Homo sapiens: one gene and its partners. The protein of the gene in region 2 interacts with the protein of the main gene of each other region in a biochemical or structural test. Each region holds a gene or a part of one and is shown on either strand. Other genes may lie near its edges.

Region 1 (3,753 bases), on a different chromosome or scaffold from region 2:
AGTCTAAAGACAGTGCAGTATTTTGTCATAATGATAGACAGCCCAGTGGAACATAATGGAGCAGAAACAAACCCACAGCATATGGTCTTCAGATTGACAACAGTAGAGTCTTAAAAGTATGGTCATTTCAATAAATGACGCTGGGTCAATTGAATATACATATGGGGAAAAACTGAAATTTGACCCCCTTCCTCATACCAAATGCAAAAATCAGTATAAGACAGGTTGTAGATTTAAATGTGAAGAGTAAAAATAAGGAACGTTTTAGAAAAAACACCTAAAGAGTATCTTCATGGCCTTGGGGTAGACAATGATTTTCTTAAACAGGAAACAAAAGCACTAACTATACAGTAAGAAAGTCGATAAGTTGGGCTACATTAAAATTAAGTTTCTATTTATGAAAAGACCACTAATAAAAGAATGAAAAGTCAAAGAATGGGAATAGATATTTACAATGCATATATCTAACAAAGGACTCTTATCCAAAATATATTATTTTTCTACATTGTATGTATATATCCGAAAAAACACAGAGCCGAACAGATACTTGAGCAAAAAAGTTGAATTGGTCAATAAACATGAAGTGATTTACCACTTTATCAATCTTAAGGGAAATGCAGATTTAAATGGTAGTATCATACCATCTGACACCCACCAGTTGATTAAAATGAAAAATAAGGAAAATAGCAAACATACTTTAACTCTCATTTAGTACTTACAGAACAACCAATTATGAAAACTGGTATCTATTAATACTGGGCATATGTATAAACTACGACCCAGAAATCTCACTTATAGGTATTTATCCCAAAGAATTGTTTACATGTGTACAAAATGTAGTACTGCTCCTAATAGCTAACAATGATAACCCAAATGCCATTAACAGTGGAATATGTTCATTTTGGGAAAGTCATCTAGCTCTGCACTAGTAATTAGTTTTTTTACTTTTATATGTGTACATTAAAAGAAAACTAATGTACATGGAAAGCTATCTGCTTCTATGTTTATAACGGACATATGGTAAGATACACAAACAATTGGTAACATTGCTTGCCTACAGGGTTTGTCTTTTGAACCATGTGAATGTATTACCTATTCAAAAATAAATATAGTCATGCATTACATAATGACATTTTAGTCAATGACAGACACAGACTTCTTATTGCCTATGACATTATGGCCATTCTAACATGGTGGTGCAATGCATCACATGTGTTTGTGGTGATGCTGGTGTAAACAAACCTACTGAGCTGCCAGCTGTATAAAACTATAACACATATTAAGATTGTATACAGTACATAGTATTTTGATAAACGTGTTACCACTTATTCTTTGTTATTTTAGAGTGTACTTCTACTTATAAAAAAGTTAACTGTAAAACAGCCAGGCAGGTCTTTCAGGAGGTATTCCAGAAGAAGGTATTGTTGTTATTAGAGATGACAGCTCCCTGTGTGTTACTGCCCCTGAAGACCTTCCAGTGGGACAACATGTGGAGGTGGAAGTGGTGTTGATTACCCTGGCCCTGTGTAGACCTGGGCTAATGTCTGTGTTTGTGTCTTTGTTTTTAACAAAAAAAGTTTAAAAAGAAAAAGCCTACATTTTAAAAATAGAAAAAACTGATAGACTACAGATGTAAATAAAGTATTTTTGTATAGCTGTACAGTGTGTTTCTCTTACTACAAAAGAGTCAAAAACTTTAAAAATGGATAGGTTTATAAAGTTAAAAAGTTCTGCTAAGCTAAGGTTAATTTATTAGAGAAATTTTAAAAAATAGTGTAGCTTAAGCATACAGTCTTTATGAAATATACAGCAATATACAGTAATGTCCTAGGCCTTTACATTCACTCACTACTCAGTCATTAACTCACCCAGAGCAACTTCCAGTCCTGCATGTTTTGTTTATGGTAAGTGTCCTATACAGGTGTACCGTTTTTGATCTTTTATACTGTATTTTTCTATGTTTAGATACACAAGTACTTACAATTGTGTTATAGTTGCCTACAGTATTTAGTACAGTAATATTCTGTACAGTTTTGTAGCCCACGGGCAATAAAGGGACGTAGTAGGCTCTACCATCTAGGTTTGTGTAAGTACACTCTTACGATGTTCACACAACGGAATTAATGATGCATTAAGCAACATATGCATCACTAAGTGACACATGACTGTACTACAGTTTATTAAAGATTATCATTTGTTATAGTAAATGCTAATGGACTGGATTCTTTTAAATTCAGATACTATCAAGTTGATTAAAACACAAATCCCAATTATATATCATTTGTAAGAAACAGACTTTTAAAAAGTTGGAAATAGAGAGACAAGGAGATCTTAAGAAATTTTTTTTTTTTTAGTGATAAGTTGGTAGTATGTGAAATGAGGTGGAATTTATCTTAACATCTAATAAACTGGTTGATGGGGGATGTTATGGTATAAGGCCCAGTTTATAAAGTAGAGGAAAAATGGGGTACAGTAGGAGAGCTAAGGGTCATAATGCCAACCGTATGCAAACAGTGTGGAAATAACCATCCTGAAGGTTTTATATTCTATGCTACAGTATCCTTTATAGCGGTTATTGAATTTTAGGATTATAACAAGTATTACTAATTCTAATTTTATTTTTTAGGGTTTTTTTGGTCATTTATAAACAAAACAGGTTTCTGTTTAAAAATAATTTAAGTACTATGGAAGGAGTGGGAGGAGTTTAACGTTGGCTGAAGTTGACCTTCCCTCTGAGGTTCTCACAGTCCTGCTTATCAGGAGTAACCACCATTAATAAGTTTATTTTATAATCTTCTAGAACCTATTCACACATTTGAAAAATAATATTGAAAGAAAAAACTTAAGTTTTGTTTTAGAATATTTTCTTTAAAATATGTAGCATTTTCAGCTTCATCATACACTTGCTTTGTATATTAAAGTTCTGTGAAATTGATGTTTAATGAACACTTTATATTGCACAGGTTTTAGAATTACTTCTTGCCTTCTGTTCAGTGACTCAGCTGCGCCATATGCTCACTCAGATGATGTTTGAACAGTCTCCACCTGGCAGCGCCACTCTGGGAAGCCATACTAAATGTTTAGAACCTACTGTGGCTCTACTGCGCTGGTTAAGCCAACCTTTGGACGGATCAGAAAACTGTTCTGTTTTAGCATTGGAGTTGTTCAAGGAAATATTTGAGGTAATAGGATGACTGACAGATTGACTTTTCTACTTTTGTGACTCTCAGTTAACAATTTGTCTTCAAAAACATTCTTTGTAAACTTACAGTTCATACACTTGAGGAAAACATCTCAATTACTAACAGTCATACTAGACTCGCTAGGTTTTTTTCTGCCAGTCATATATATTAGTGTTTTCCTTTTTTTTCACTGAGTAGTGTGTATGTATATATATATATAGTGCTCATTTCAGTGTAATAAGTAAAGATATTAAAAAGATTTATATAATTTGTTGCCTGACTACTGGGGATAGTTACATTGTCTCTCCATTGCAATAGATGCCATCTACCAAGTTTAGTAGGCCATTGAATGGACAATAGAGGCATATTGGATTCAGTCAGTGAAATGGAGTAGAGCATGCCAGATAATGTGCTAGGCACTTAAGATACAGACAAAACTCCACATTCTGGTAGATCTTACTATCTGGGCAATTTAATATTCTCTACTATTCTCCCTGTTTATAAATCCATTCTGTCTAACCCAATATCTCCTGAAAGTATTTCCCTTCACATAACTGGGTCTTACACACAA
Region 2 (3,753 bases):
TGAATGAATTGTATGCAACACCGGATCAGGAGATATGATACAAGGATTTGGGTGGCAAAGGATTGTCTCAGAGATGCCTCTAAGCCTCCCTAAGAGTTCATGGCCATAAACCAATAGTTTCAGAGCTACTCCTTTTTGATATGGATATATCCTGGACTTATTAAATTGACAGCACATATTTTATTTTTAAAATGTTATTAAGTTAACTAGGGGCATCGCTCTATCCTCAAAATTGTTTTGGAGACACCATTAACCCACTTAAATTATTAATAAAAAAGCCACTTATTCCGCACAAATAGTTGAGACTGTCCTGCTTACCTACAGATATTCGTCTAAGAGCCGGCAGACATTCAGATACCCGCAGACAGAACTTACTTTCTGGACCTCCCACAACATTCCTCCCTTTAGATCTTTTTTTTCTTACCCCGTCTTTCAGCTTTCTCATTGCAGAACTGCTGAGAATAATGGAAAATGCTTTGCCTGGAAACTTCCAAGAACAAAACTCCGGGGGCTAAGAGAACGCGATGATTTTTAAGCTGCCAGTTAAGATGCAGCTCCTTCATCATCACAGGTGAAGCACCAATGCCTCTCGCACGTGAAATCCGTACGCTCCTAGAGTCTTACTACCTAATGCATTTCTGCAATCTGGGACGCCTGTCCTTAGCGTCTTCAATAGTTTTGGGCACGAGGTGGACCGCGGAAGTATTGTATTGAAAAGTTAACGTTTTTCCCTTGGACACCCTCTCCTCACAGCTATTAACAAGCTGAGAGAAATCAGGTGACTCCCAGTCATGCAGAGGTTTCCTCACCATTTATGATCAAGCCAAATTAAAGAATAAAAATAAAATCCTATTGGCGCAGCGGCCACCAAGTCTTTGAGGCCTCGCCTCGGTGGGCGGGGCCGACGCCGGAGGAGAGGGGCTGCGCATGTGGGCGTGACCTCGCGGAAGGAGCTGCGGAGGGCGGGGCCGACTGGAGAGGGGCGGGGCTGTCGGGTGGGTGGGACCTCGCGGCAAAAGCTGCGGAGGGCGGGACCAACCAGGAAAGGACGGGACTGTCGGGTAGGCGGGACCTTGCGGGAGAAACTGCGGAGGGCGGGACCAACCAGGGAGGGGCGGGCTGTCGGATGGGCGGGACCTCGCGGGAGGAGCTGCGGAAAGCTGAGCTGGTGAGGGGAGGGGCTGGTCGAGGGGAGGGGCTGGTCGAGGGGAGGGGCTGGCCGAGGGAAGGGGCCGGCCGAGGGGAGGGGCCGGTCGAGGGGAGGGGCCGGTCAAGGGGAGGGCCCGGCCAAGGGGAGGGGCCGGTCGAGGGGAGGGGCCGGTCGAGGAGAGGGGTTGGTCGAGGGGAAGGGCTGGCCGAGGGGAGGGGCTGGCCGAGGGAAGAGGAGGGGAGGGGACGGGCTGGTCGAGGGGAGGGGAGGGGAGGGCAGGGGACGGGCTGGTCGAGAGAAGGGGAGGGCAGGGGACGGGGTGGTCGAGGGGAGGGGACGGAGGGGAGGGGAGTGGAGGGAGAGGAGGGAAGGGGAGGGGAGGGAAGGGAGGGGAGGCGGGGCCCAGCGGTGTCCCGCGAAACTGCCGCTCGCTCGGTTCCCGGGCCTCCCCGTGCGCCTCAGTGCAAAGCGTGCCAGGCACTCTTGACTGCAACGAGAGCCGCGGCGGTGAGGGGGCAAGGCCAAGAGGCCACGGTTCGCGTTTCGCCGGCTGCAGAAGTTGTTGCCATACATTTCAAATGTGCATTTCCTACGTCTCACGCTCTGTCTTGCGCCTCCACAGCGGGCCACGGCCCTGTCACCGCAGTCGCAGCCACATGCTCCCTCCCCTGAGTCGGCTCAGCTCTGCTCAGCGGTCAGCCCCGCGCCAGGAGGCCGCGGCCTGCCTGAGGCCGGCTCGCAGCGACTCGGGACGGAGGGCGGGGGCGTGAACGGGTCGCGCGGAGAGGGTGGGGGGAGCGGGGAGCGTTAGGGTACGTGGGGGCGCGTCGACCAATGGCAGGGCGCTGTTGAGTGCAGCGGGGCGGGGCCGGGCGCGGGGGTGGGGCGAGCGGCGGGCGGGGCGGGGCGGCCGGCCGGGGGGTGGGAGGAGAGGGGCGGGGCGGGCCGGCCGGGGGAGGGGCGGAGAGACGCCGCCGCTGCCGCCGCCGCCGCCGCCGCCGCCGCCGTGGCTGCCGCAGCCTCTGGGAGTCTGGAAAAGGGGAAGCGAGAGCAAGCGAAAGACTCAGTCCCCGGGCGGCGGCGGCGGCGGCGGCCGCGGGGGCGCGACGGCCGGGGCGGGGGCGCTGCTGCTGCGGGGGCAGGCGGCGGCAGGGGCGGCGGCGGCGGCGGCGGCCCGCTCCAGCCATGCCGAATAAAAACAAGAAGGAGAAAGTGAGTCCGGGCCCGGCCGCGGGACGGAGGGAGCAGGGAGGGACTGCCGGGGGAGGGCGCGACGGCACCGGGGTCCTGCGCCCGGGCCCCGGCTCAGTTCCCCGCCTGACGCCGCGGGCTTCGCGTCCCCGAGGGCGGCCGAGCCAGGCATCCCCGGGCTTCTCTCGGCCTCATGCCCGGTGGGGGCGGGGAGCCCGGGGATCGCGCCGGAGCCGCGGGGCGCAGGCCCGGGCCGCTGGGACCTTCGTGATGGGCCGGGGCTGGGCGTGGAGGGAGGGCGCGGCCCGGGGAGGGGGTCGGAGGGGCGCCCGTTTCCGACAGCGCGCCGTGGGCTTGGGCGGGCAGGTGCGGCCGCCGAGGGGGTTCGCAGCCTCGCAGGCTCCCGGAAAGGAGCTTCAGGGATGGGGGCTGTAGACGCCTGGGGAGGGACCCCTGTACGGGGGAAAGGGAGCGAGAAGGGACCCCGCTGAGAGCTGGTAAGGAATTCTCTGCCGCCCCGGAGGGACGCTCTGGGGCTCTCGAACACTATTATTATCCTGGGTGGCGGCGGCGGTGAGGGCTGCGAGCAAGGGTGCTGCGTTTGCATTCGGGGGGGCGGGTATGTTTCTGCTTCAGGTGGAGCTCTGTAGCGTTTCATTATCACCCCAGAAATCCTCACTCATAGGGTTTAGGGTGGGAGGGTAGAAAGGGATGTGATGTGGATCTCAAAATGCCAGAAGCACTGTATAAAATTGGATTTATCTGTTTTCTGCTTGAAGTTTTCAACCTCAAATGCAGATAAAACGAAAAGAATCTGAATGGGGGTTGGGGGGCATTGCACTGTTGGAATCCTAAACGGTATGATATAGAATTTCCTAATGGTATGAATTAAAAATATCAGAAGCTGTAGTTGTATAAATCACTTTTAAAACTGCATTTGGCTTATCTGATGTTTACCTGTCTAAAAAGTGAGAAGACTAATTGACTTTGCTTGATGTTTACCAGGAATCACCAAAAGCAGGGAAGAGTGGAAAAAGTTCAAAAGAAGGACAAGACACAGTAGAATCAGAGGTAACTGTCATCAAATATTGACTTTGTATTTTATACACAGCTTTTAACTTCAGGTAGAAAAACCGAGAGTGATAAAGCCTAGAATCTTCTAAAATGTTTCCCTATGTGAGGTTTTTTTTTTGTGGTGTCTTTTATAACCCTCAATTTTAGTTGTTTAGGTATTTACTGTTTTGCTTTGGAAAACTATTAATGATTTTATGAAAATTGTGCTTGCCTATGGGGTTTGTTTGTGGGTCTTTTGGGGTTTTTTTTGTTTTTTATTTTTTTGAGACGGGGTCTCACTTTGTCACGCAGGCTGGAGTGCAGTGGCGCAATCTCTGCTCACTGCTACCCCTTGCCGC
Region 3 (3,753 bases), on a different chromosome or scaffold from region 2:
CCCAAAGTGCTGGGATTACAGGCATGAGCCACCGCGCCTGGCCTCTAATTACTCTTGGGATAATTTTAAATAAGTGGCCATTAAGTAGTAAGACACTTCTGTTGGCCCATTGGAACCCGTGAAGGAAGCTCTGGAGCTGTTTAAGGGAAGAGTGCTCATGCCACAGGCCCTAATGCCAGCTGAGCAGAAATGCCAGGCGAGTAGCTGGAATAGTCTCTACAGGAGATTTTAAATCTCTGTCAAAACCTGTAGTGGACAGGCTTCATCCAGAGAAACAGAAGCAGGTGGAGATACACATTAGAGACTCATGGCAAGGAATGGCTTATGCAGAGGTGGGCTGGCCAGGTTTGTGGGACGTCTGTAGGACAGGCCAGCCAGAAGGCAGCTGATCTCCCCGGCCGACTGAAGCTGCCTTCCACAGCAACATCTCCCACATGCCAGCAACAACCACGAGTGCATGTTCCAAAGCTATTAGTAATGTCTCACACTCAATAGCCATTAAAGCGTAAAAATGTCATTCCGAATGTTCTTTTGTTCTGGACTCTGTGAATAGCACTGCGTTGGTCTGAGTCACCATTGTGAAAAATAGGTGGATATCTAAAAGATGAGGAGAAACAGACCTATGTGAGGCCAGGATCTAGAATACAGAAACAGTTCTAAAATGTGGTAATTTGAAACAAGCCACTCAAGAGTAAAATATGAGACTAATGAGAAAACCCAGATGGACTGATAAAATAAGAAAAGGACTTTAACCCTCTGGGAATCAGGGAATTCAAAACTAAGATGGCAAAAAGATTTTTTTTTACCTTTACGGTACTGGAAAAAAATTTAAATTGTGACTATACCAAATATTAGAGAAGGTGTAGAAAACTTAGACCTCACATGAGTTCGACTAGAATGTAAATAGGAACAAAGATGTTAGAGAATAATCTAGAAAAAGTGAAGGTGGGTGTATCCTAAGATCTAACAATTCCACTTCTAGGTATCTCCTCTAGGGAAAACCTGGTCTGTGTGCATAAGACACACACAGTGGATATTCACTGAAGCAATGTAGTAAAACCCTGTTTTGAGATCATGTAGATTCACATGCAATTCCCTTCACCAGTTTCTCCCAACAATAACATCTTACAAAACCATAGTACAATGCCACAACTAGAAAATGAGCATTGATACAACCCATTAACTTTGTTCAGATTTCAGATTCCACCAGTTTACATGTACTCATTTTATAGACTGCTCTGTGTGTGTGTGTGTGTGTGTGTGTGTGTGGTATGCACGTGCGCTTAGTTCTCTGTAATTTTATCACCCATGTAGAACCATGTGACCACCAACACATCAGAGGACAGGAGAGTTTCATCACAGGATCCTTGATGCTACTCTTTATAGCCAAGCTGACTTCCTCCTTCCCCCTCCCTGAGGCTGGCAACCACAGTATGGTTCCTATTTTCTATAATTTTGTCGCTTTAAGAATGCTCTATAAATGGAATCATACACTATGCAACCTTTCGAGACTGGCTTTTTCCGCTAAACGCAATTCCCTTGAGACCCATCCGGGTTGGCAAGCATGTCCATAGGTGTTTCTTTTTAATTACTTAGTGGTGTTCCGTCATCTGGATGAACCAAGGTGTGTTCAACCGTTCACCCAGGAAGGGCACTTGGATTATTTCCAGGTTTTGGTTATTGCAAATAGAGCTGCTGTGAACATTCTTGTACAGGTTTTTGTGTGAACATAGTTTTCATTTCTCTGGGATAAATGCCCAGGAGTGCAATTGCTGAGTCATATGGTTAGCACATGTCTAATTTTATGAGAAACTGCTAACTCTTTTCCAGAATGGCTACACCATTTTGCATTCCCACCGGCGGTGTGTGAGTGATTCAGGACCTTCCCAGCCTGGGCAGCATTTGGTATTGCCACTATTTTTTTTTTTTATTATTTTAGCTCTTCTAATAAGTGTGTAGTGATATCTCCTGATGGTTTAATTTGCATTGTCCTGATGGCTAATGACATCAAGACCTTTTTATGTACTTATGGCCATCTGTGTATCCTCCTCAGTGAAAAGTCTGTTCATGTCTTTTGCCTACTTTTTAATTGGATTGTTTGGTTTTAACAACTGAGTTTTCCTAATTCTTTATATTTTCTAGATGCTGGCCTTACCACTCGGTGATTATTTTCTACCACTTTATCTTGTTTTTTCACCCTCTTCACAGAGTCCTTTGCAGAAAGTTTTACATTTTGTTGAATTCAAGTTTATTAATTTTACCTTTTTTGGATTTTGATTTTTGGTGTGAAGTCTAAGTCTTCACCTAGCCTGAGGTTCCCGAAGATTTTCTCCTTTTTTCCCTACAAATTTTATAGTTTCACATTTTATACTTAAGCCTATTTTCCATTTTGAGTTAATTTTTGTATGAGGTGTGAGGTTTAGGTTGAGGCTTATTTGTTTTGGTTTGGTTTGGGTTTTGCCAACGAATGTCCAATAGCTCCGGGACTATTAGTTGAAAAGGTGATCCTTCTTCCATTAAATTGCTTTTGCACCTTTGCTAAAAACCGTTTCCACTTATTGCTGTGGGTCTATTTCTGGGTTCTCTATTCTGTTCCATTAGTCTATATGTCAGTCTCTCTGCCAAGAGCACACTGTCTTGATTACTGTAGTTGCATAGTCAACTTTAATCAGGTGGAGTGACTTCCTTCCACTTTATTATTCTTTATAAAACTTATGTTAGCTATTGTAGGTTCTGGGCCTTTCCATATGAATTTTAGAATAGCGCGTTTATGGGTGCAAAAACCTTGCTGGGATTTTGATAGGAATTTCTTCAAATGTATAGATTAGGGAGAATTAATAGTTCTACTGTGTTGAGTTTTCCAATCCATGATCACAGGTTGTCTCTCTATGGGTAATTAGGTCTTCTTTAACTTCTTTCATCAATGTTTTATAAATTTCAGTGCACAGATTCTGAATCTGAAATTTCTTTACAGTGTACATAAGTGTTTTATTTTCTTTGGGGCATTTCTAAATGGCATTGTGTCTTAACTTCAGTTTCCACGTTTATTGTGGAGTAGGTAGAACTGTGAGTAATTTTTATGTGTCAGTCCACATTCTGCAACCTACTGAGCTGCCTTATTAGATCTAGGAGGATTTTTTTTGGTAGATTTCTTGGGATTGTCTATGTAGATCATCATGTTATCTGCAAATTGGATAGTTTTATTTCTTCTTTCCAATTTATATACTTTTTATTTCTTTTTCTTATCTTACCGTACTGGTTAGAATGTCCAGTGCTATATTCAATAAGAGTTGCAAGAACTTGCCTTATTCTGACCTAAAGGGCAAAGCACTGAGTTTTTACCACCAATTATGATGTAGCTATAGGATTTTTATGGATGTTCTTTATCAAGTCAATAGTCCATGTCTATTCATGAATGTGTGTTGTATTTTGTCAAATGTCTTTTCTGGGACAATTTATATGTTCATGAGATTTTTCTTCTTTGACTTCATGGTATGATGGATAGTTGATTGACTGACTCTCTAATGCTGACCCACCCTTGAGTATCTGATATATATTCCACTTAGCCATGTATATAACTTTTTTATGTGTTGCTAGATTCACTTTACTAATATTTTGTTGAGGACTTTTGCCTCTAAGTGTTTGTGAGATATTGATCTATAGTTCTCATTTTTTGTATAGTCTTTGCTAGTTTCAGTATCAGGATAACTGGCCTCATAAAATGAGTTAGAAAGTGTTCCCACTTGTTCTAAC

What was found.
Region 1: the proteins of PPP2R5C (region 2) and CIP2A form a complex in vitro, tested with the Homo sapiens proteins (one study listed by BioGRID).
Region 3: of the proteins of PPP2R5C (region 2) and MBP, one has a biochemical effect on the other in vitro, tested with the Homo sapiens proteins (one study listed by BioGRID).

The regions. Positions count from the first base shown.
Region 1 is NC_000003.12:108,568,818-108,572,570, reverse strand, and holds part of CIP2A (protein CIP2A), read left to right. Parts: intron 1-2,963; coding exon 2,964-3,182; intron 3,183-3,753.
Region 2 is NC_000014.9:101,759,559-101,763,311, forward strand, and holds the start of PPP2R5C (serine/threonine-protein phosphatase 2A 56 kDa regulatory subunit gamma isoform), read left to right. Parts: upstream 1-2,150; 5' UTR 2,151-2,335; coding exon 2,336-2,362; intron 2,363-2,811; exon of another isoform or gene 2,812-2,838; intron 2,839-3,346; coding exon 3,347-3,412; intron 3,413-3,753.
Region 3 is NC_000018.10:77,126,038-77,129,790, reverse strand, and holds part of MBP (Golli-MBP), read left to right. Parts: exon of another isoform or gene 1-1,431; intron 1,432-2,142; exon of another isoform or gene 2,143-3,753. UniProt on the Homo sapiens protein: The classic group of MBP isoforms (isoform 4-isoform 14) are with PLP the most abundant protein components of the myelin membrane in the CNS. They have a role in both its formation and stabilization.